Linked DNA regions of Homo sapiens. The protein of the gene in region 1 purifies or fractionates together with the protein of each later gene. This does not show direct contact. Each region holds a gene or a part of one and is shown on either strand. Other genes may lie near its edges.

Region 1 (2,601 bases):
AAAAGCAACAGTCCTCTGCAGGGACATGGATGGAGCTGGAAACCATTATCCTCAGCAAACTAACGCAGGAACAGAAAACCAAATACTGCATGTTCTCACTTATAAGTGGGAGCTGAACAATGAGAACACATGAACATAGGGAGGGGAACAACACACACTGGGGCCTGGCAGTGGGTAGGGTAGAGGGAGGGAGAGCATTAGCAAAAATAGCTAATGCATGCTGGGCTTAACACCCAGGTGATGGGTTGATTGATAGGTGCAGCAAACCATCATGGCACACATTTACCTATGAAACAAACCTGCACATCCTGCATATGTACCTCAGAACTTAAAAATAAAAATAAAAAGAAAAATGGTAATGTTGTGAGATTACAATTAAAAAATAAGAAAAATGGAGTTTGAAACACATATACACATTCAGGGATCATTAGGTTGGGGTACTATACTGTTGCTAAGATGCCTGACTATGTCAAGTGGAAGAAGAACACAGTGCCAGGAAATCTGGGGGAACTGATAACATTTTATTAAAGGCAAGAAACAACTAAAAGGCAGGCAGCTTCTAATTTAACCTTGAGGGAAGGACACTGTAGTATTTTAAACCTTCTCTATAGCCATAAACTAGATATAACACACACATATACAAATGGATCTGTCTACCAAAATTTAAGAAACAACCTGAATAAAGTGCAAAGGCAATCAATTGTTAAATAGTACTCCTTTAGTCCATCAGGTTTTCAGGTTGTATCACATTTGGCCAGGTTTGTGGGCAGATGGATGATGGGTGTCATTTACAAGTCAAATGAAAACCAGTAATTTTGGATTGTCACATAGGAATACTGATGATTCTCAAATTACCACTCTAGCAGCGAGAACAACTTCTTTTGTCTCCAGCAGCTTTACTGACAGTAAGAAGGGCATCTTCAGTAGTTTCTAGTCTTTTAGCCCTTCAACCAAGCTCTTACCCCTGGCAACATAAATGACTTCAAGCCTTGGAGCTGCAAAATTTCTTTTTTGGTCAGAGTCTCACTCTGTTGCCCAGGCTGAAGTGCAGTGGCAGGATCTCGGCTCACTGCAATCTCTGCCTCCTCAGTTCAAGTGATTCTCTTACCTCAGCCTCCCGAGTAGCTGGGATTACAGGTGCACGCCACCACGCCCGGCTAATTTTTGCATTTTTACTAGAGACTGGGCGGGGGTGGGGGAGTGTGTCTCACCATGTTGGCCAGGCTGGTCTCGAACTCCTGACCTTAAAGGATTCACCTGCCTCGGCCTCCCAAAGTGCAGGGATTACAGGCTTGCACCATTGCGCTGGCCCTAAAGTTTCTTATTTTTTAAAGAAAACAACTTTTGGTAGGGTTATGAATATACTTAGGAGGTTAAAGTGTGAAATGAGGCAGGACTTGGTTAGGTGAAAAGTAGCATCTTATTTTGGGTAATATTATAATTTATGTTTTTTAGACTTCCCTTAGAAATTTTTTTAAAATATACATATGGCATCCTTGAACTCCCTTAAACTCTTTTATTTGTATAAATTTATAGGGTACCAGTACAATTTTATTTCATGCATAAATTGTGTAGATGAACCCAAGTTCTATGTAAATTCTGTGTATGTAGATTTTTCTGGGGAGAGGGTCTAGTTTCTTCATGACCCATAAAAATTTAATAAATACTATCTTAGGGTATAAAGATTATGAATTAAAAGTTTACCAATTGTTATGTTATAAGCAAGGTTAAGGTCAGTGTGGTACAGAACTTTCAAGACAGAATAGGATCATCTGTTTTAAATTTTTTACAGAAAATTGCCACCTTTAATAATGTAAAAACAGTGATTAATCAGGAATGATAAAGCAAGAAATTCTTAGGAAAGCTACAAAATGATAGAATGTATCCAGGGAAGTTATTTCAACTGTGATATTTGGTCTTAAATTCAATTATTATTAGGTAAACTGAGTGAGTTCTACCTTGTTTCTAGAATTTGTAAGTTATTCTGAGTAAAGCCTCTTCCATTGACTTGGCCACATTGCCCACCTTTGATTTTATATTTAATAGTTCTTTCAACTTAGATTGCAAACGATGAGAACTGAGTTTTTAAAACCACTTACAATCTGGAACATTTCCTTTTATTCCTGGTGACCGGGGAATGCAGAGGTGTGGCTGTTATCTCTTTCTGACTGCTGCAGCCCACAGGGAGAGCTAATCATGAAGAATAGTTTTACAGAAACTTGTATGAAATCTTAATTTTATTAGCATGGGCTGGTAAACGCTGATTTTTAGATTGGACAATTCTGCCAGGAGGAATAGCTCAACTCACACATCTGATGCCGCTGGCTTTCAAAACATAAGTGGAATGAAAAAATTATTGCACTGCATATACTGCCTCTGGAACATAATGGAGACAAAAGAGGGCTTAATAGGATGGCTCATTTCAAATGACTAGGTTTCTGCAAAACAAATATAATTTTGAGTTTATTCCCCCTACTGAAAATACTCATACAGTACTCCAAGTTGGTAAAATTTATTCTACATTTAAATTCAGAAAGTCAGAATTTCAGTGTGTATTACAATCCACGGCCATTTCTATTTCTGCTGAAGATTTTCATTGTT
Region 2 (3,500 bases), on another chromosome or scaffold:
CAGATTCTGTGAACACAACCATTTGTTACAGATGATGTGCAAAAGCTTAAAGCACAGTGAACTGAACAGATTTGGAAGTGATGCCGAGTTTACAAATAAAAGGGACCCTGTGGCCTTTAAAGATACATGAATTCACAATTTAAAGAGACACCAAGCTCCACCCAGTGAAACCACAGGGGACATCTGTAAGGGTGGTGACAACGCCCAAATCGTGTGGCACCATTACAGGCCTACTGGGCATCCATTGGCTCTAGGTTTAGATTCTCCAGCATCTGGTTCTTCATGTCAGCCTTTTTTATTGACACCTCCACCCCACCCCCTTTTTATTCCCATCTTCTGTCTTATTTTGGCTTACGCAAAACATTGCAAAAGCGCTCCTCACGTTCAGTAGCAGGGGGACTGTGGCGATTAAATTCACATTAGGCTTCTGTGGTAGTGAGAGAAGTGCCTGGATCATGTAGGAGTTCATACAAGAAAGATACTTCTCCTACAACAGACACACACACACACACACACACACACACCCCTAGGGTTAGGAACAGGCTGTGCTTGCTCTGAAGGTCTGGGCCCATCACAGGAGTTGAAAACAGTCTCTCCCGGGATGTGGATTCTAGGGAAGAAAAGAGGGAGATCATCGGAACCATTATGGCTCGGGGGCCTGATGAGGTCCTGACGTAGCAGTTTTGGGGTGGCTGCAGAGCTGGCAGATGGGCTGTGTGTGAGCCTGGTGGAGGTCAGCTCTAGAACCTAAGTCATTGGAGCCCTAAAAGAGGGACCTTTCTGTGGGCTCAGCACAGAGGACTCTGTTCTCCCTGAGGGCGGTGAGAGGCGGCCTTGTGGCTAGACCAGCAGCAGCATCACCAACTCTGGGGTATCAGCTTCAGTGAGGGCCCCATGGGGCAGATGCAGGCAGCGGCGGCAGCAGCAAATCCTTACACACCCATTCTCTCCTAGGGAGCAGGGGTCAGGTGAACTCCCCATTTTGGGCCGTGTAGCCTGCCAGGGGAGAGGGGCTTCCCCAAGAGAGATACTGGACCGCCTGGGTCTAGTGGGTGGGGGGCAGGAGGTGATTTTAAGTTAACCTCCAGAAATAAGCTCATTATCCAATCATGCAGTGAAAGCACTGTGGAGCAATTCATAGAATTGCCCACTGGAATTTCGAGGAAGAATGGTTCAATATTCCAGAATTTGCCCTCACATCTGAGGCTTCCTAGAATGCAAGGCGTTCAGCAGGCCTGTAATGTTTCACCCTGAGAGTCCGGATCCCGCTGGGACTCCAAGTGGACGATCTCATCGCTACCTCCAGCTCCTCCTGTCTACAGACTTCCTTGCTGGAATGTGTTCTTGTTGTTGAAGGCTGTATTCTCTCCAGTCCTCACTAGGAATCTTGGATAACAAGGGGGTTATCCCAGAAGGCAGCCTCTGCACATTGCAGAGGAAATTTAATGTGATCTATGGCTTGAGAAACTGAACTGAAAAACAGGAAAGGCAGGCTGGGCGCAGTGGCTCACGCCTGTAATCCCAGCACTTTGGGAGGCCGAGGCAGGCAGATCACGAGGTCAGGAGTTTGAGACCAGCCTGACCAACATGGTGAAACTCTGTCCCTACTAAAAATACAAAAATTAGGTGGGTGTGGTGGCGCCTGCCTGTAATCTCAGCTACTCAGGAGGCTGAGGCAGGAGAATTGCTTGAACCTGGGAGGCGGAGGTTGCAGTGAGCCAAGATCGCGCCACTGCACTCCAGCCCAGGTGACAGTGTGAGACTCTGTCTCAAAAAAAAAGAAAAGCTGAAAAGGCTGGGAAGTTCTCAAAAAAGTGATTCTGACCCAGTGGTTGCAAATAAATGTTTTAATATTTCAAGAAGCCTCCCATCCCCAGCCCCAGAAATTGTACATTTGCCTGTGAAAGGTGGCAGAGGCTCACTGAAGTTGTATTTCTTTACTTCTGACTGGACTTGTTGGGTCGGGGTCACACTTGGGGCCCCAGGCTTCCCTGCAATGGTGGTCACTCACGTCCCTTCCCGTTCCCCTCTCTTCCCAGTTCTTGGTTCAGCTGATGGTGTTCCTGATCAGCTTCATAAGCTCCGTGTTCTGTGGCCACCTGGGCAAGCTGGAGCTGGATGCAGTCACGCTGGCAATCGCGGTACGTGTGGGCTTTCTGGCAGGTTTACCAACACTGTCTGTGTTTGCCTTCTGCTGCTACTATAACAAATCATCAAAATGTAGTGGCTGAAACCTACACAGACTTATTCTCTTACAGTGCTGGAGTGCAGAAGTCTGAAGTGGGTTTCATGGCCTAAAATCAAGGTGCTGCAACTTTAATTCCCCTTTGCTGTGTAACCTTGCAGATTCCTAGGTTCTGGGGATTGGGCTGGGGACATCTGGGGGGGCATTATCCTGTCTATCACATCTTCTCATTTATTTTATTTTATTTTATTTTGTTGTTTTTTTTTTTTTTGAGATGAAGTCTCGCGCTGTTACCCAGGCTGGAGTGCAATGGTGCGATCTCGGCTCACTGCAACCTCTGCCTCCCAGGTTCAAGCGATTCTCCTGCCTCAGACTCCTGAGTAGCTGGGGTTACAGGCGTGCGCCACCACACTTGGTTAATATTTGTATTTTTAGTAGAGATGGGGTTTCACCATGTTGCCCAGGCTGGTCTCAAAGTCCTGAGTTCAAGCAATCCACCTGCCTTGGCCTCCGAAAGTGCTGGGATTACAGGTATGAGCCACCGTGCCCAGCCTCACATCATCTTATTTCTTTTCTTTTTTTTTTTTTTCAGACGGAGTCTTGCTCCGTCACCCAGGCTGGAGTGCAGTGGTGTAATCTCGGCTCACTGCAACCTCCGATTCCTGGGTTCAAGCAATTCTCCTGTCTCAGCCTCCTGAGTAGCTGGTACTACAGGTGCCTGCCACCATGTCTGGCTAATTTTTGTATTTTTAGTAGAGACGGGGTTTCACCATGTTGGTCAGGCTGGTCTTGAACTCTTGACCTCAGGTGATCCACCCGCCTCGGCCTCCCAAAGTGCTGGGATTACAGGTGTGAGCCACTGCGCCCGGCCTACATCATCTTATTTCTAATCCATGGAACTCGTTCCCACTCTTGGTCCCACAGTTGGGGGAGGGGAACAGTAAAAGGGGAGTTCAGTCTGACTTCCTCAGAGGAACTGACTCCCCCCCATGCCCACTCCTCAGTTGTCTGTCTTACTGAGAGTCCTAATCTAGAAATGGGTCTGGAAGGTAAAAATCTAGATCTTTGTGTCCAAACTTAAAATTGGGAGGAACTGCAAATCCTCTCTGTATAATAGATGCAAACCCCCAAAACCAGAGACATGTCATCAATCTCAGCCAGGAATTGTCAGCTGGCCATGTAAGAACAAAGGGTTTGGTTTGTCTAGTTAGGTTGTTTCTAGAAAAGTGGATTCAGTGGCTCTCGGGCAGGTGTATGTTCCCCTTTCCTCCTGCCCTGACGGAGACACAATTTCACTTGATCTGCCTGGTCTCGC
Region 3 (3,500 bases), on another chromosome or scaffold:
GAGACCTTGTTTCAAAAAAAAATAAAAAAAAGAAAAGCTTCAGGGACCGGGAGAGGAGCTGGCCTGGCACATATCAGGTGCTTGGTTAACCTTCACCAGTGCCATCCTTTTCTCTGACACAACACTCACGGTCATCTTAGGAAGAAAATGAAGACGGGGGGCAATACCAGCAGCCGCTCCGCCTGTGAGCGCTCACTGCGAGCTGGGCTCTGCCCAAGGTACTTCCCGGGAAGCACTGCCCAGACTCCGTGCAGCCTCAAGCCACGGTGCCTTTTCCTGCTCTTGTAGCCCTTCCCAGCTGCAGAAGCAGGTCTGAGAGCCCAGTAACTCCCACGGGAAGGGCAAAGCTAACGGGAGGGGCTCCGCCTCGACTGGCCAACCTCGAAGGCTGGAAAGGACCTATCCCTGCAGCTGGGACACTTCCCCAGATGCACCAGGCTCCCCAGCACACCCGCCTCCCCCCGCCCCACCCCTGGCAGCCCTGACTTGTCCTTCCAAGCTTCACCCTCAGTCCACATCCTCAGCGGAGCCACCCCAGGTCCTCCAAGCACTTCCTCCAGACTCAAATTCTGCCCAGCCTTTGAGGCAGCCTTAGATGTGGCCAGTCAGCTTCCCCATGGGACAAGAGACCTGGCCAGGTGCATCTCAACCTGCTGGCCCTAGCCTAGCAGGCACAGCAGGGCAACCTGGGCAAGGGCACCTCTCTCAAGATGGGACCGGAAGGTGGACCAGGCCATGACCTCTCGGTGACCTGGGACTGGGAATGTCCCTCTCTAGACACAGCCTCCTTCTTGATGAAAGGGGGGTGGTCTCACAAATCCTTGCCTAGGAGTGGCTGGGAGGGCAGAAGGAATGACAAATGACAGCTCCTCTGATATGTGGTGTGGACAGGATTTCCTTTGGAGAAGGACAGCCAGGGCCTCGTGAAACTACTCCAGAGAGAACCTAGGTGGCAGGCTCACCTGGGCCCCAGTAGGCCACCCACCGAGCCCAACATAGGGAGCACCAGGGTAGATCCTAAGAAGGCACGTGGGAGCCTGCACTGTGATCAGCAGGCCACCCCACTCCCAGTACGCTTATTCTGAGCACCACAAGCCTCAAAATTCCTTTTTTTTTTTTGAGACAGTCTTGCTCTGTTGCCCAGGCTGGAGTGCAGTAGCACGATCTCGGCTGGCTGCAACCTCTGCCTCCCAGGTTCAAGTGATTCTCCTGTCTCAGCGTCCCAAGTAGCTGGGACTACAGGTGCCCGCCATCACACCCGGCTAATTATTTTGTATTTTTAGTAGAGATGGGGTTTCGCCACATTGGCCAGGCTAGTCTCAAACTCTTGACCTCAAGTGATCCACCTGCCTTGGCCTCCCAAAGTGCTGGGATTACAGGCATGAGCCACCACGCTTGGCCAAGCCTCAACATTTCTGCCATCTCAGAGAACTGCAATAACCCCCACTTCTCAAGGGGTAAGCTGAGGGACACAGGGAAGAAACATTCCAGGCTGATCAGAACCCCCATTCCAGGGCTCCTTATGTACCCCACATTGCCTCACCAACCCCCTCCCACCCCCAAGAGGTCTCAAGATCCTCAGGCCTGGCTCAGAGCCCCCAGGCTAAGGCAGGAAAGCTCTGTGGCTCAGGGCCAGCCTGGGTTCAAGGCCTGGCTTGGCCATTTTCTTCAGATTCTGGAACCTCTGCAAGCCAACTTCCACATCTGTGAGATAGCAGGGCCCCTCTCAAAGGGTGGGGGACTCCACCCAGCTCAGGAGAGATGCCCAGCATAGCGCCCACCCGTGGTAAATGTTACTGCTCAAGCAGCTGCTCCCATGATGATCGTTAACGTGACAACTGTTAGCTCTACCACTGCTCTGTGCTGGGTGAGCTGGGGGCAGGGGCTGGTGGTTTCAAAGGCTGGCCTCTGCAACTGCCCACCTGCCCCATACTCACTGCCCAAAGCAAGCCTTCCTTGCCTGGGCACCTATCAGAGCCATATGGGCACAGAGGCCCCTGCAACCTGAGGTCTGGCAGTGGCACCTCAGGGGACACTTAAACTCTCTGAGGCCTCAGCTTCCCTTGGACAAAACAGGCTCCCAACAACCCAGAAAGGGGGTACTGGGGCCTCTGGTCAGCGAGCGCTCACCCGCAAGGGCCCTGCTGCCCGGCCACACCTGCCCACCGTACCTTGACATAGTAGGTGATGAGGATCTTGCGGAGGTCGAAAACCTGCAGCATGGAGGCAGCATTATTGTCACTAATGCTATAGCCCTCCAGCACGTACTTGCTGGCTGTTACCTCCCAAGCCAGCCAGCGCTGCCCAAAGGCAGCATTGAAGGACAGGACCCGTGGCAGGTGGCCAGGTTCACAGCAGCAACAGCCCTCGTCCTCCTCCACACCCTCGGTGATAGCCTCCACCTCGCGCTGCTGGCAGTAAGTGCCTGTGGAGGAGGGGTGTGCAGTCAGGGGCTGCTAGAACAATCCCTACCTGCCCTGTCCTGGGAGAGTGACCAACATGGCATCAGAGGCCTGCTGCCATTCACCCCCTTGGACGCCAGGGGAGTCAACCTTATTGGATGCCAAGATTCACGAAAGAGCGCCTGCCTTTCTCCTCCCAACTCCCAGCATCCAAGGGCAGGGCGGGAGGGAGCAGGGACACGGTCTGGCCCCTCTGCACTCTCGGGCATCCAACACACACGTCTTCCTGAGAGGAAGGAGCTGGCTCACTCATGGCGCCCAACCCATGGGCCAAGCCTGAGACCACAGAGCAGGCTGGGTGTGAGAACTCAGACCTCCAGGCCCAGGCCCTCACTGCAGTGACCTGTAGAGTCACTGGGACCTAAAGTTGGGGCAGGCACAGGGCTTGGCCAAGAGACCCTGCCACCTCATTGCTCAGACTGGGAAACGCAGGCCCAGGGAGGAGGAGTGCCTTGCCCAAGGCCACCCGCCAGCCTGGACAGAGCTGGACTGGACCTCCTTCGCACGTGCTATTGAACACAGCTCCCACATCAGGCCCGAGCTGTGCCTGCCCACCCGAGCCTGGTCCTGCGGCTCACCCCGGAACTCAAGGCCACGCAGCTGGAAGGTGACGAGGCCATTGCCAACCTCGATGAGGTGCACCAGGGCGTTGAGGTAGTCAGAGGCCAGGACGAAGCAGTCACCAGGGCCATAGTTGCCCCAGCGGCCCAGCACCAGGTCCCCACACAGTGTGTGCTGCAGCGAACGTGTCAAGTGCTCATAGAAGATGGAGTTGAGGTTGTTGTCATCAGCGCCTAAGACCCAGAACAGACGGGCAAATGGACAAAGTGACAAGTTAGCGAGGCTCCCTCCCCAGGGAGGCCCTGCCCTAAAGCCCCTTGGATGGCTGGGTACACACCAGGGTTCCTGTCCAGCTGTGTGACCAGGCGGGTGTTGGAATGATCCACACGTTTAGTGCTGTTCAGAGAGAGTGCAACAAGGCGGTTGGCCAAGAAGGTGAAGAGAGGGTGCACCCTGCTCATGCTCTCCCTGTGCCAC
Region 4 (3,500 bases), on another chromosome or scaffold:
CCCATCTGCCATCTTGCTCCTGGGCACCCCTCTCTCCAGCCCCAGGCAGGACAGCAGCAATTCTGACCTGTCCCTTGTCCTTGTCCCTACCCCTTCCCGATCTAACAAATGGCCTTTGGTTACAAACTTCTCCCTGAGTTCACTGGCTTCTCTTCCCTTTTCTTTCACTCTTACCCTCCTCCTTCCTTCTGATTCTCTTCCCTTGACCTAAGAGCACAGGGTTGCAACAACCTTGAAGGCCTTCAGCTCAGAGATGGCAGAAGGCCTTCTCACCCACTTCCCGGCCTTGGACTCCGCCCTTGCTCTAATCTTTCTGCAGGCTCATTGTTTTTTCCAAAGCACTACTGTCAGGTTACACACCTGCTCCGGGACAGTAGCCATAACCTGTGGCACTCAAGGTCCTCCCTGCTCTACTCATAAGCTCTATCCCATAAGCTCATCCAGGCTGTGTCTGTCTGTGCTACATGCTGAGGCCACAGACATAACCAAGACCTGCCCCACCCTCAGGGAGCTCACAGTCTGCCTGGCTCCCAAATGAGTGCATTCACTGACCTCCAAATCTGCCCCTGTATCATTACTAAGGTCACAGTAGGTCTGGGCCATGGGGCTCTTCTCCATTACCCAAGACTTTTTTTTTTTTTTTTTTTTTTTTTTTTTGAGACAGAGTCTTGCTCTGTTGACAGGCTGGAGTGCAGTGGAGAGATCTCAGCTCACTGCAACCTCCACCTCCCGGGTCCAAGCCGTTCTCCTGCCTCTGCCTCCCGAGTAGCTGGGACTACAGGCGCCCACCATCACGCCCAGCTAACTTTTGTATTTTTACTAGAGATGGGGTTTCACCATGTTGGCCAGGATGGTCTCAATCTCTTGACCTCGTGATCCACCCGCTTCGGCCTCCCAAAGTGCTGGGATTACAGGCGTGAGCCACCGTGCCCAGCCCTCCTCACCCAAGACTTTTATAGCCCAGAACAAGGCGCACTTTTTCCAGGAAGCTTTCCTGGACTCCTAACTCGGAGAGACCCGTTAGTCCTCTGTCCTCCTGCCCCGTCTTGCCTGTGCCCTTCATTTCATGTATCACATCGTAAACAGCACTAACAGTCATGCACCAACAGTCCTTCTAGCCCTCTTCGGCTAGTTTATGAGTCCCTCAGAGACCATGTCAGACTTAGTTCTATTCCCAGAATTAAAGCCTGACATGTGGTAGGTGTCCTGCAAGGCAGAGAAGAGAGCCAAGCCTTGCTGGCTTCAAATGCCAGCTGTGCCACTCACTGGCTATGTGCCCTGGGGAAGTCACTTGGCCTCTCTGAGCCTCATCTGTCTCGTAAGTAAACTGGAGCTATCTCCAGGCTGGAATGCTAGGAGGATTAACTGGGGAAGCCGCTATGAAAGTGCTGGCCTATGGTAGGTGTTCCCAAATGATGTTTAAAATTTTTTTTTTAGAGACATGGCCTATCGTCCAGGCTAGAGTGCAATGGTGCAATCTTGGCTCACTGCAGCCTGGAACTCCTGCACAGGCTATCTTCTTGCCTCCGCTTCCGAGGTAGCTAGGACTACTGGTGAATACCACCACGCCAGGCTAATTTTTTTATTTTTATTTTTTTATTTTTTGTAGAGACGGGTTCTTACTATATTGCCCAGGCTGGTCTTGAACGCCTCAAGTGATCCTCCTGCCTCAGCTTCCCAAAGTGCTGGGATTACAGGTAATCCCAGGCTCAGCCCCAATGTTTAAAAAGAGGACTGGCCACTTGTTGGCTCACAAGGAGCCTGAGGGTGAGTGCTCACCTGCCAGGTGCTGAGTCCCTGGAAGAAGAAGAAGAGCGCGAAGCCCCAGACCACGGAGGTGCAAACGATGCAGAGCAGGGGGATGAGCTTGATCCTCTCCCCACTCCGGAGCTGGGAGGGGCCAGGCAGGGACAGCAGTCTGAGGGCTTACCCCTGTCCCACCCCGCTGTCCCACCCAGCCTTTCCCAGATTCCCTTTCCTCATGGCCTCCCAGGCCTTCAGGACTGCTCCTTGGATTCATACCATTCCGCACAACCACAGAGCTCAACCTGCCCCCACCCCGATGTCCACCCCACCCAGCCTCCATGTATCCAGAACCCTGTGTCGGGACAGTGCACTGGCCTCAAGGCGCTCCCTATGCAGGGGGCTCCAATCAGAGTGGAAGGCAGGATGGTTTCTGGGGAAGCACCTGATCCTGAGAGGCCCACACCCTACCTCCCCTCAGCCCCTTCTGCATGGAAAGGGGCACTTACAACTGCAGCCTAAAATGCCACCTGTTTCAAGGGCCCTTGGAAGGGGCTCAGTAAATGGTCTTTGGGCTGCAGTTGGCTCCCAGGGGCCCATGCAAGAGGCTTTAGCCTCTCCCCTCCGCAACCAGCAAAGATGGGACAGAAAACTTCTCACTGCCCCTCAATGCTGCCGGGCCCATCTCTCTCCCCAGATAGCAGAGCAGCTGACAGAGGGGGCTTGGCCAGCCCCACTCACCTTCATGATGATGTAGAAGGCGAAGTAAAGGAGCAGGTTGCAGATGCCAATGGCCAACAAGTAGGAAGCGAAATCATTGGGGCGCATGATAAGCCCATAGGCAGCCCTGGCAAGAGGGATGAAGGGTGGTGAAGCAGGAAGCCCAAGGGCAAGGAAGTGCTCTTCCTGCCCTGCCTAGGCATGTTTTATTATGATGTTGGGCTGTGTTCAGAAGCCCACAGAAGATTCTAGAAGCCCAGATGCCAAGAGAGAGAAGAGAGGCCAAGATCTCTCTTAGCCCCCATGTCTTATGCCCAACATTTGGAAGTTGTCCTTAGCCCCCAAGGCAGCCAGTGGCTGACCGAGTCCCCAGCTGTCCACCCAACCAGGCCACTACTGCTGACCATACTCACAGCGACCAGTTGATGACGTTGCCCATGACCAGCAGCACCATGCGGTCCTGGAGGGAAGCAGGGACACAGGGACTGAGGGCAGGGGCAGGGAGGGTGGTGGAAGAAGGCCCAGCCAGCTGGTCCCCACTCTCCCCTGGGTCCTCAGCCCAGCCCCACTCCCCCATCAGAGGGAAGAAAGGAGATGTGGAGAATGGAGCAGGGGAACCAGGCAGGTACCACGTAGAGCGGCCCGCTGCACTGCCGGATGCAGTCTGTGTAGAGCACGTGGAGGATGCGGCGGAAGATCCCCGAGTCTGCGAAGAGAAGGGAGTGGTGCTGACAGGCACGGGGCACCCTCCTTTGCTGGACCCCTGGGATGTGCCAGCTGAGGAGCCCAGGCCTGATCTAATTCCTCACCCAGTGACTCCAGGGCCCCCAAGACAGAACCTGAGCGTCTCCCGTGCGTCCGGGTTCCCAAGGCCCCCCAGACCCCTCCCCCAGGCCCTGCCCCGGGCGTGCCCTTACCCAGTTTCCACCGGCCCATGTAATAGAGCTGCGTGCTGAGGAGCAGGGTGGCGATGATGTGAATGATGGAGAAGACGATCCAGAACGCCGTGTTCCCTTTGCCAAAGACCTGTCGGGAGG
Region 5 (4,015 bases), on another chromosome or scaffold:
ACACAGGGCCTGGATCTATAAATAACTGCCAAAAAAAATGAAGAGCAAAGGTTATACATTTCCTTTGTAAAAAGAACTGAGCTTCAAATATTCATGCTCCAAATTATTTTTAAATAGTCACTGTAAGTGTCATTTCACTTTGTCTAGCAGACATAGCAATTAGCAGAGTGCCTGAGCAGCTATAAATGTTCTCATTTAGTCTGGTTTTTGTTCAGGATAATGAATATAAATGCTTGTTTTGACTAAATGAATGGTTCTCCTAGGCCAGTGCTGAATAAATGCTTGTGCTATTGTGACGCTTCTGACCCAGGCAGGAGACATGTGCTTCCATCTCCAGAACAGCAACCCCTGAATGACCCCTCGATACAATGGAGAAAAGAAGTGCTGTGTAATTTAGGGGCATAAACCAAACCTCCACTGCTTAGAGTCAGCTTAATGTCTGACAGAAATATACAAAACTGTAAAGCCTCAACCAGACATCTGAATAATCTGTCCATACATTTTTCACATATCAGTATTTATTATCTTTTCAAAGGAACAGGTCAAGATGAGAATAAAGTTTATGATCAAAGGTAGTCAAACATTTATTTTATATAAATATAATTTCCTTGCCTATATCCATTAGATTTGGGGAAAAAAGGTTCAAGTTTACAGTGCCAGAACAGCTCCTTCTTTAAAGGCTTGTAAACAGTGACTTGTTCTATGCCAGCATGCACACTTTGAGCATATCAACTCACTTAATCCTTACCAACAATTCTATGAAGATTGTGCTATCATTCCCATTTCACAGATAAAAACTAATGTATCTAGATATGATAATCTTGCTCAGGATCATGCACTGGGATTTGAACCTAAGTGATCTATTCTCTGATGCCGTACTATCAATGCAGTACAATTTTTAACTGCATGAATGCACACTGCAGAGCAACAGCAATTGAACAATGATCATTTGCCTTTTGGAAATTATGGCCACATACTTTGTGTAGCTTGATTTACAAATAGCTTGGCTAAAAAGCAGTTCAGCAAATCAACTTCTTAAAATAGGCTATGAAGGAAAAGTGCATGATGAAGCCAGCAGTAAACAAAGAAATTACACAATTTGGTGAGAGAGGGTTTGGAGGTGGAGGGGAGTTGTTAAAGGCCTGGAATCATTGAAAAGTTTGGGGATGACAGTGACTTGGTACAACTGAGAGAACTGCCCCTCAAAAGATTAGAAGGACAATTGATTGGCAAGAGACACTTGACAGAGCCAGTATTGAGTTCCATTTATTTTGGAGCAGTATGCATCTGCTGGGTTTGGGTACTCTGGAAAAATCCAAAACATAATATAATGGAAAAAGCATGGGTAAAAATCACTTATTAGCAAGTTGTTTAATCTTTGAGCCTCTTCGTTCATCTATAAATTTAGAATATGAATATCAACTTTGAAGTGTTGCTGTGAAAATTAAATAAAACCATATATGGCGGAATAGGTGCCCAAAATTGGTTAATCATGAAAAATTTACCATCATCAAGATGTAAAATAATTAGCTGTTGTTGTTGGGGCAGGGCTTGGAGTTGGGGGTTGGATATTAAGATTCCAAACCTGTATAATCTTTTATCTGGAAAACCTACCAGATAAAACAAAGAGATTACCACCCCCATGTTTTTAGGGAGAGAGACAGAAAGTATGACACACAAAAGAATTAATTTGTTCAACTTTGATGGAAGGTAAACCCCTTTAGTTCTCACTTTGTTTTTAAGACTAGGAAAAGATTCAAACTTCTTAATTATGGATTATCCACCATGTTCTTTCCTTCCTCGGAATCTTTGAGATCCAAGAACGTCTGTTCTTTAAGATGTAACAAAAAACACCTGAAGAAATTTGAAAATGACAGAATGTTAAATCATAATAGATAGCAGAATTATGGTTTTGTAAGAAAATACCTGATTTTTAGGAGATGCATGCTGATATATTTAGTGGTGAAGTTCAATGATGTTTGCAACTTCACATGGTTCAAAAAATTTTATAAATATATAATTATACATATACATAAAGCAAATATGGCAAATTGTTGTTGAATTTAGATGATGGCAATATGAGTAGTGTTTAAAATAGTTAGGTCAGGCGGGGTGCAGTGGCTCACGCCTGGAATCCCAACACTTTGGGAAGCCAATGAGGGAAGATCACTTAAGTGATCTCCCTCTTGCAACATAGCAAGACCTCGTCTCTACAAAAAATAAAGATTAGCCAGGCATGGTGGCAAATACCTGTGGTCCCAGCTACTTGGGAGGCTGAGGAGGAAGGATCACTTGAGCCTGGGAGTTCGGCTGCAGTGAGCCATGTTTATACTACTGCACTCCAGCCTGGGTGACAAAGCAACATCTTGTCTCAGAAAAATAAAAAAATAAAATAGTTGGAGCTGTTTGTTTTAGAGGCAAGGTGTTGCTCTGTCACCCAGGCTGGAGTGCAGTGGCACAATCATAGTTCACTATAACCTCCTCGAATTCCTGGGCTCAAGTGGTCCTCCCACTTCAGCTTCCCAAGTAGCACTTTTTTTTTTGTACAGATGGGGGTCTCACTATGTTGTCCAGGCTGGTCTCAAACTCCTGTCCTCAAGTGATCCTCCTGCCTCAGCTTCCCAAAGCATTGGGATTATAGGCATGAACCACCATGCCCAGCTCTTAAAATCGTTTATAATAAAACATGAGGGGTGGGGGGAACCAAGAGGTTGCATTTAGGGACAATCCTAGGTATAATTTTTCCATCTTTTTCCTTTTCCATTCATAGTACAGATGGTTAGGGGAGAGGGTGGTAATGCAGAAAACAACTGATATTAGAGAAGTAACAGTAAATTCAGCCACAAGTCAACTGAAAGACAAGTTCTACACAACTTCTGAAACATCTTGTAAGAGTCCAGATGGTGAGAAGTCAGTAACTAAAATCAGTGGTTTTAGGAATTCTTTTGCCAGGAAGGAACAAAGCACTGGGTGGGAGTATTAGCCTTTCCAATGGGCCTATCAAGAGAATTTATCCAGGAATATTTAGGAACCACATTCTAAAGACGTTACAAAGGCAATTACAGAAGAAAATGTCATGTAGTTCCCTCTGTTCAGAACACACACAATCTTGAGAATCATCCCTCTTTATCTAATAATTAATGCTTACCTGCAAATGAACATATCAATCTTAAGAGGTGGTATAAGAAAAAAAGAATTATATAGGAAATAAGCCAAAGTCTTATAAAATTTGAAGGTGTTATTAAAGGATTAAAAAGGAAACAAAAGGATTGTGATAAGAAGCAAAAAAAAAACATTTTTTTTACATAACCAGAAAACAAATTAAAAAATTAAAATCCCCCAAGAAACCAAATTAACTCATTTTTTTAGTTAACTTACTAAATGTTTTGGAACATACAAAGTGCAAAATATCTTTTGCATCCCTTTAAGAAACACCTGCCTTTCTTTGGTAAAGAATTTCTTGCAGGAAAGATTCCAAAGTTTGAAGTTCCCTCCAACGATCCCAGCAGAAATGTTTCTAACTTCTAAGAATGTCCTAAGAGAATGAGCTAAAACACAGAAAATGTTGAAAGTCTTATTTAGAATATTAAAAACTGGAAGCAATCTAAAGGTCTAACAGTGGAAGAATGATGTATTTATAATGTGAATATACATGTGATGTCCAACAATTTCAATTCTAAGTATGAAGAGTAAGCCACAATAAAGAATGTTAAAAAACAATAATTAGTAAGTAAATATAATTATAAAACCAAGTCAGAAATACAAAAAAAGGGACAACTATACTGGAATGATGAAATTCGATTTCTGTTTCCTGCCTCCTCCCTTGCTGGCTCTATAATTTTTTTTTTTAATTCTTAGAATAGGAAAAAAAGGTAAGAATGCTATGGCTGGAAGGCCACTAGTAAACAAGCACATATAAAGGGTCCTCAAGACAAGACCTAATATGGGTATGAAACTAAATGTTATAAGGAAGGTCATTGTCCTCAGCAACTGACTCTGCTATTTTTACCCCAAA
Region 6 (3,500 bases), on another chromosome or scaffold:
AAAAGAAGATACTAGTGGGAGGTGAAGCCAGCTGGGCTTCTGGGTCGGGTGGATACTTGCACCAATCAGTGCTCTGTGTCTAGCTAGAGGATTGTAAATGCACCAATCAGCATTCTGTAAAAACGCACCAATCAGCGCTCTGTGTCTAGCTACAGGATTGTAAATGCACCAATCAGCACTCTGTAAAAACGCACCAATCAGCACTCTGTAAAATGGACCAATCAGCAGACATGGGCAGGGACAAATAAGGGAATAAAAGCTGGCCACCCTAGCCAGCAGTGGCAACCCGCTCAGGTCCCCCTTCCACACTGTGGAAGCTTTGTTCTTTCGGTCTTCACCATAAATCTTGCTGCTGCTCACTCTTTGGGTCCGCACCACCTTTAAGAGCTGGTAACACTTGCTGTGAAGGTCTGCGGCTTCATTCTTGAAGTCAGCGAGACCACGAACCCACTGGAAGGAAGAAACTCCGGACACACCATCTTTAAGAGCTGTAACACTCACAGCGAAGGTCTGCGGCTTCATTCTTGAAGTCGCGAGACCAAGAACCCACCACAAGGAACCAACTCCGGACACACTATGATCTGTATAACCAGCTATATTCTAGTGTTTTGGTTTCATTTTTCTATTGTCATTACATCCCATGTGACATATATATATATATAATATATTCCCCTTTCTCAGGTTAATTATTAAATGTACTAATGTACATTTTCAGGAGGTATCTTACCAGACTCTTCTAGGTTGCCAGTGATCAAGGAGCTTGAGTTTCAGTTCCTGAAGACAGTGCAGGCCCCATACCAGGGCCTCCCATCAGAACTAATTTATAGAAGGACTGGTTCAAATATTGAACTGGTGTCAAAGGTATAGTATCCTTAACTGGATTATCATTTGATTCCCTCCATTCACCAAATCCATCCCTCCTATCACCACGATTTGGGCTTTACAATCCCATCTCCATACAGGATGACTTCACACTGACAAATCACTATAATGTGTACAAACACATAAAGTATCTGTGGAGTATTAGTTTCCACAGAGGCAGAAAAAGTGACTTTAGCGGAACTGCCACTTGATATTAGGCAGCATTTCACAGAAATCTAAAAGCAGGGCCATTTTACAACAGATAAAACTCCAAACTCAAACCCTTCTCTGGAATTGTCCAGGACAAGCATCTGACAGCACTCACTTACCCCCATGACTCTGCCGCGCTGCTGAACATCCTCCCACATAAAATGAACTATGATACGACACATGTACTTCCCACTCCGGCCTTCCTGCTTCATTCGGACTAGACACATCCTGGGTGGGAAGAAGACAAAAAAAGTCTTGGCTGTTTGCATTTTTCACATCACACATTTCCACTGAAGGTCTCCTCATCTAAGAGTGAGTTTAGCAAAGGGCACCAAATCAAACTGGAAGTGAACTTTTTTTTTTTAAACTTTTACTGAGATATAACAAAGATACTATTAAGTGTATAAATCTTAAGTGTACTGCCTGATAAATTTTTATGTATTATACATACACCCACACAAGCACCACCCAGATCGAGATACAGATTATTTAGGGCACCTCTGAAGGCTCCCTCATACCTGGAGGGAACCACATTTTTTTGTTAGAAGACAAACAAGTCTGAATCCTTCATTTTACTGATGAAAGCAGGAGTCCTAAAGACGGAAAGTAATTTGCCCAACACCAGTTTTATATCCGTAAAACTGGGTATAGAACTGTGCTGTCCAATACAGTGGCTCCCCTGTGGCTATTGAGCATTTTAAATACAGCTAGTCAAAGCTGAGATGTGGCACAAGTTTAAGATTTCAAAGATTTAGTTGAAGAAAAAGAATATAAAATATCTCAATTTTTAATACTGCTTTCATGTTGAAATAATATTTCAGATATACTGGGTTACATACAATCTATTAAAATTTGTTTCTTTTTACTTTTTCAAATGTAGATACTAGAAAATTTTAAATTACATACATGGCTTGCGTTATATTTCTGTTGGACAACACCTGTCCAGAACACAGATCACAGAAAGTATTATGATTACATTTGTGTAATTATCCAATTGTTTCCCCCACTAGAAGGTAAGCTCTACTGAAGATAAAGATCAAATCTGGTTTTTGTCAACATTTTATTTCCAGGGCTTAAGTACAGTAGGCACTCAATATACACTTGCTGAATAAATAAATGAACAAACACCTATGGTTAGGGCCAAGTTTAGGACCTTTTCCCCTATACCACATTTGCCTCTAGTCAGTCCAGAGGGCTTTCTGAATAATCAAGACCTCACATAATCTAAACATACAAGAATTATATTTTATTATATATAGGAATATAAGCAGGGTCCCCAACTTTTCAAACTAGTTCCTCATTTCATGCATGACCATAGTTCATTCTTTTTTGTTTTGTTTTGTTTTGTTTTGTTTTGTTTTTTGAGACGGAGTCTCGCTCTGTCACCCAGGCTGGAGTGCAGTGGCGCCATCTCGGCTCACTACAAGCTCTGCCTCCCGGGTTCTTGCCATTCTCCTGCTTCAGCCTCCCAAGCAGCTGGGACTACAGGCGCCTGCCACCACACCCAGCTAATGTTTTTGTATTTTTAATAGATATGGGGTTTCACTGTGTTAGCCAGGATGGTCTCAATCTCCTGACCTGTGATCCACCCGCCTCAGCCTCCCAAAGTGCTTGTTTTCTCCTTTTTGAGACAGGGTCTCATTCTGTCACCCAGGCCGGAATGCAGTGGCACAAACACAGCTCACTGTAGCCTCAACCTCCCGGGCTTAAGGGAGCCTCCTGCCTCAGCCTCCTGTGTAGCTGAGATTACAGGTGTGCACCACCACGCCCAGCTAATTTTTTATTTTTTTGTAGAGACGGGGGTCTCAATTTGCTGTGCAAGCAGATCTCAAACTCCTGGGCTCAAGACTTCCTCCCACTTTAGCCTCCCGAAGTGTGGGGATTACAGGTGTGAGGCACCATGCCTGGCAGACTATAATTTTTATTGTTTCTCATTAAATAGCTTATTAAGCAGCTACAATAGGATTACTCACCTAAAAGACAATTCCTGTTATAATTATGGAATAGTTAATCCAACCTGACAATTCTATATCCATACACAATTGATCTTGCCAATTAAAATCTACCAGCAATAGTAATGGTACAATGAAATGATTACAGCTTGGCCTGTCTCAACATCTTTGTTAATAACTAAGATGGAGAAAAGAAAACATATTTACCAAATTTGCAGGTGACAAGAAGCTGGGCAGGAGAACAAATGTGCCAGATGATCCAACCATGAACCAAAAATACTTCAACAGGTTGAATCTAACAAGATCAACCTAATGGGGATAAATTCAGGATCCTGCATTTGAGTCTAAAAGAACAACTGTAAAAGTACAGCACAGATAAGTCATGCCTACCTATGTGTGAAAAGACTTATAGGCTTAAGTTGATATTATGTGCTCAGTAGGAATCAAGAGGATAACAATGCTGCCCTCCAAATTAAT
Region 7 (3,500 bases), on another chromosome or scaffold:
ATGGCCTTCTTAAAAGGACACCAGTCTCAGATTTTGGAGCACCCTGATCCAGTATGATCTCATCTTAATTAGTTATATCTGAAAGACTCAAATATTTCCAAATAAGGCCCATTCATAGATACCAGAGGTTGAGACTTCAACATATCTTGTTCAACGTATCAAATTGTGAGTTGACACAGTTCAGACTGCAACTTGGCCATATGTATTAACCAATTAAATTTTTCTCATATTGCCAAATATGTATTAAAAATAGAAGTTAACTCAAAACTTGGGTAGCAGGAAATAACTTTTGTCTTCATTTTTCTTTGGAGAATTAAACTTAACTGAGCAGACTATAAAAAGTTCATGAATTCTGTATTTTAATTTTGGTAAAGCATTTAATAGTCTCATTATATTCAGATGGATACAATGATGAAATATAGGCTGTGTGACTTTACTTACAGTGAGTGTTGATAATGTCTGTGTTCCAACCTGAAAGGGAGTCTCTTATGTCTTAGGAAGTTTTTCAAAATACAGTCACCCCTCCATATCTGTGGATTCTGCATCTGTGGACTCAACCAGTTGCAGATTGAAAATATTCAAGAAGGAAAAATTGCATGCCTACTGAACAAGTATTGTGTCTGTACTGAATACTTACAGACTTCTTTCTTTTCATTATTTCCTAAACAGTACAACTATTTACATAGCATTTACATTATATTAGGTTTTATAAGTAGTCTAAAGATCATTTAAAGTATACAAGAGGATGTGCATAGGTTATATGCAAAAACTACACCATTTTATGTCAGTGACTTGAGCATCTGAGAATTTTGATATCCAAGGGAGGTCCTGGAACCAATACCCCATGGATACTGAGGGACAACTGTCTTGTCTTAGCTCCAGCTGTTATCAGTGACTTTCTGGAGTTTATTTATGTTTGTTTTGTTTTTTAATATTCAAGACAGTTTAAGGAGAGACATCAAAGAAAACAGACATAGTACTGGAGATTGTCAAGGTATGAATAGCAGCACCAACCAGTGGGCAAAGGAATCTTGTGTAACGGCTTCTAACTAGATTTTGTGGACCAATACAAGAAAATGTATATCTATTTGAGAGGGGCGGGCCGTGTGGACAGGGAAAAGGGCTGGGTATAAAAACTGACCTAGAATTACATTTTTTAATTTTGCTGAATAAAGACATCCAAAAACAAAACAACCTCTGTTATATCTGTTTTTATCATTTCATAAAGGAAAGGCTGTTTTGACAAAATGGAATAAAATAATCTCAGAATAAAGGACACATTTTAAAATGGAATAAATTTAGCTTTAAAAGTTCTTTTCTACGTTGTCCATGACTAGAAAATTTTGTCACAGAATAGCAATGACTTCTGGCAAGCATTGATGATCTGAGGTATTTCCAAACACATTTTTGAAAATGGCTTACCACACTGAGTAGAGAGGCAAATAGAGTGGGAATGGAGCAATGAAATTGGGTATCTGGTAGGATTTAAAGGATTTGAGAACACCAGTGAAAATGAAGAGCAGATTTATCTTAGGAAAGAGCTTGAAGGGTAGTTCCTACTTGGGGAGGTAAATGTGTTTTGGATTTTAGAGGTGGAACAGTTTTAAGGGTTGACCTTGCTCATGGGTGGCTTTCCATAGAATTAAGATGGAGGTCACAGGAGGAGAAGCGCTGTTAAGCTTACATGGTAAAAAGGTTTTATTGTGAATGAATGCTATAGGATAAATGCCATCAGAGCATGAATTCCAAAGGATGATAATGGAGTGGGGGAGAAGCATATTGAATGATCTGGGTGCTGAAGTCATTAAGCAAATTATGAATATATTCAGATGTTAGTGGAATATAGCAACAAGTACGGAAGTGAGAATCAGTGTGTACTGTGGTTTGGAGCATAGTTTCAAGTTCTACCACCTGCTATGTAGCCTGGGAAAATTATTTGACAGTTCTGTGCCTCATTTCCTCATCAAAAAGTAGGATTAAAAATAGTACCTGCTGCTTCATAGAGTCATTTACAAGATTAAATGAATTAATGTTTAAAGAGCTTCAAATAATACATAGCACAAAACATGAGAGATGGTTGAGAAATATGGTAAAACATGATACTTCTGTAACCTGTGAGTCTCAGAAATGACTAAGGATTGGAATGGAACTGCTGCCAATAGAAAGTCAGGTTTTATAAAGAGAGCAGACAGCAATTTCTTTTAGAAAAGCTAGAAGTTATTGGATACCTTGTTTATGCCAGACAGTGACTTTTACAGTAGGTTGGCAAGTATGCAAAATGGAATGAATTTCTTGGAGGTAGGTTAGTGCTGAGCTTTCAGGAATGGGACTGGTGGAGTAGCTGAGGGGCGAGGTGCTCCATTCTAGAGTGATATCCCCTGGAAAACAGGGATGGAGGAAGCTAGAGATGGGTAGGGAGCCACATGATATATTCCAGCTAGACTTTCAAGGGAGGAGTGTTGAATAGGTTGTATGTATTATTAGGAGATTTGTAAAACTAACTGCTTGCCGTATCTTTATGCTTATATATAAATTAAAAGAGCATTTAGAAAGCTCATTATACAAATATAACATTTATATAAACTTTTAGAAATGTAATTCACTGTTTTATTCATTTGTTTAACAGTGCTATACTGACTATGTGATGGCCACTGTTCTAGGTCCTGGGACAGTAGACAACAGGAAAATCCTTCTTGTGGATCTTATTTTTATATATTTACTTACCTAAGTATGACATACTGCTGTGATTTGAAAGATGTGCTACTGTGGTGTTTCTGGGAAAATTTCCTTCCTTCCTTTTCTCAATAAATATTGAATACCTGTTCGCTAGGCATTGGAGATACAAAGATCAAGTTAGACATGGTTCCTGCTCTAACAATCCGGTGGAGGAAACAGAAAAAGAGGCAATTAGAAATAGTGTGATAAAGGTACAACGTTCTAGAAGCAGATAGACTTTGAAGGCCATGGAAAGTTTTTTTGTTCCCCCTGCTTGCTCAAGGTAGAGATGAGTAGACTGGACCTTGAAGAGTAAGTAGGAGTTAGTCAAATGTAGAGATGCGGTAGGGGGAAGAAAAAATATTTCTGGCAAAGAGAATAGGATATTTAAGGAATTGAAAGTGATTTAATATGGTTGGAACGTAGACTGTGAGTGATTGGGTTTGAAGAGAGGTTAGCAGGACCTGGTTTTTGAAGGGCTTTGTAAAACATGTTAGGATAGAATCCAAGCTCTTAAGTGTAGTGGGAAGGGAAGTTTTACAAAGATTTGAAGAGAAATATCAGATTTATGTATTAAAAAGATAATTTATTATTACAGTATAGAGAGAGAATTGGAAGGTTGAAGATTAGAGGTTGTTGAAGCAATGTAGTGATAGATTGTGGCAGTTGGGACTAGGAACATACTTGGACATAAGGAATTTCTCAGTAGGCCTGAAGAAGAGAAGACAGGCAGATTTAAGAGAAATTTAGAAATAGCTTAAGTCTAAAGATATAACCCATGTTTC

The links.
Region 2: the proteins of TM2D2 (region 1) and SLC47A1 purify together in Homo sapiens (affinity purification with mass spectrometry; one large-scale study listed by BioGRID and IntAct). This does not show direct contact.
Region 3: the proteins of TM2D2 (region 1) and PCNX3 purify together in Homo sapiens (affinity purification with mass spectrometry; 2 studies listed by BioGRID and IntAct, with this or other methods). This does not show direct contact.
Region 4: the proteins of TM2D2 (region 1) and SIDT2 purify together in Homo sapiens (affinity purification with mass spectrometry; 2 studies listed by BioGRID and IntAct, with this or other methods). This does not show direct contact.
Region 5: the proteins of TM2D2 (region 1) and PIGM purify together in Homo sapiens (affinity purification with mass spectrometry; 2 studies listed by BioGRID and IntAct, with this or other methods). This does not show direct contact.
Region 6: the proteins of TM2D2 (region 1) and UQCC1 purify together in Homo sapiens (affinity purification with mass spectrometry; 2 studies listed by BioGRID and IntAct, with this or other methods). This does not show direct contact.
Region 7: the proteins of TM2D2 (region 1) and ERGIC2 purify together in Homo sapiens (affinity purification with mass spectrometry; 2 studies listed by BioGRID and IntAct, with this or other methods). This does not show direct contact.

What each region holds. Positions count from the first base shown.
Region 1 is NC_000008.11:38,988,308-38,990,908, forward strand, and holds the end of TM2D2 (TM2 domain-containing protein 2 isoform a precursor), read right to left. Parts: 3' UTR 501-2,601; downstream 1-500.
Region 2 is NC_000017.11:19,540,354-19,543,853, forward strand, and holds part of SLC47A1 (multidrug and toxin extrusion protein 1), read left to right. Parts: intron 1-2,039; coding exon 2,040-2,141; intron 2,142-3,500.
Region 3 is NC_000011.10:65,629,276-65,632,775, reverse strand, and holds part of PCNX3 (pecanex-like protein 3), read right to left. Parts: intron 3,420-3,500; coding exon 3,361-3,419; intron 3,257-3,360; coding exon 3,041-3,256; intron 2,426-3,040; coding exon 2,172-2,425; intron 1-2,171.
Region 4 is NC_000011.10:117,192,243-117,195,742, reverse strand, and holds part of SIDT2 (SID1 transmembrane family member 2 precursor), read right to left. Parts: intron 3,490-3,500; coding exon 3,381-3,489; intron 3,170-3,380; coding exon 3,093-3,169; intron 2,924-3,092; coding exon 2,877-2,923; intron 2,591-2,876; coding exon 2,485-2,590; intron 1,891-2,484; coding exon 1,780-1,890; intron 131-1,779; exon of another isoform or gene 1-130.
Region 5 is NC_000001.11:160,024,453-160,028,467, forward strand, and holds the end of PIGM (GPI alpha-1,4-mannosyltransferase I, catalytic subunit), read right to left. Parts: 3' UTR 501-4,015; downstream 1-500.
Region 6 is NC_000020.11:35,345,974-35,349,473, forward strand, and holds part of UQCC1 (ubiquinol-cytochrome c reductase complex assembly factor 1), read right to left. Parts: intron 1,300-3,500; coding exon 1,191-1,299; intron 1-1,190. UniProt on the Homo sapiens protein: Required for the assembly of the ubiquinol-cytochrome c reductase complex (mitochondrial respiratory chain complex III or cytochrome b-c1 complex). Involved in cytochrome b translation and/or stability.
Region 7 is NC_000012.12:29,374,673-29,378,172, reverse strand, and holds part of ERGIC2 (endoplasmic reticulum-Golgi intermediate compartment protein 2), read left to right. Parts: intron 1-3,500. UniProt on the Homo sapiens protein: Possible role in transport between endoplasmic reticulum and Golgi.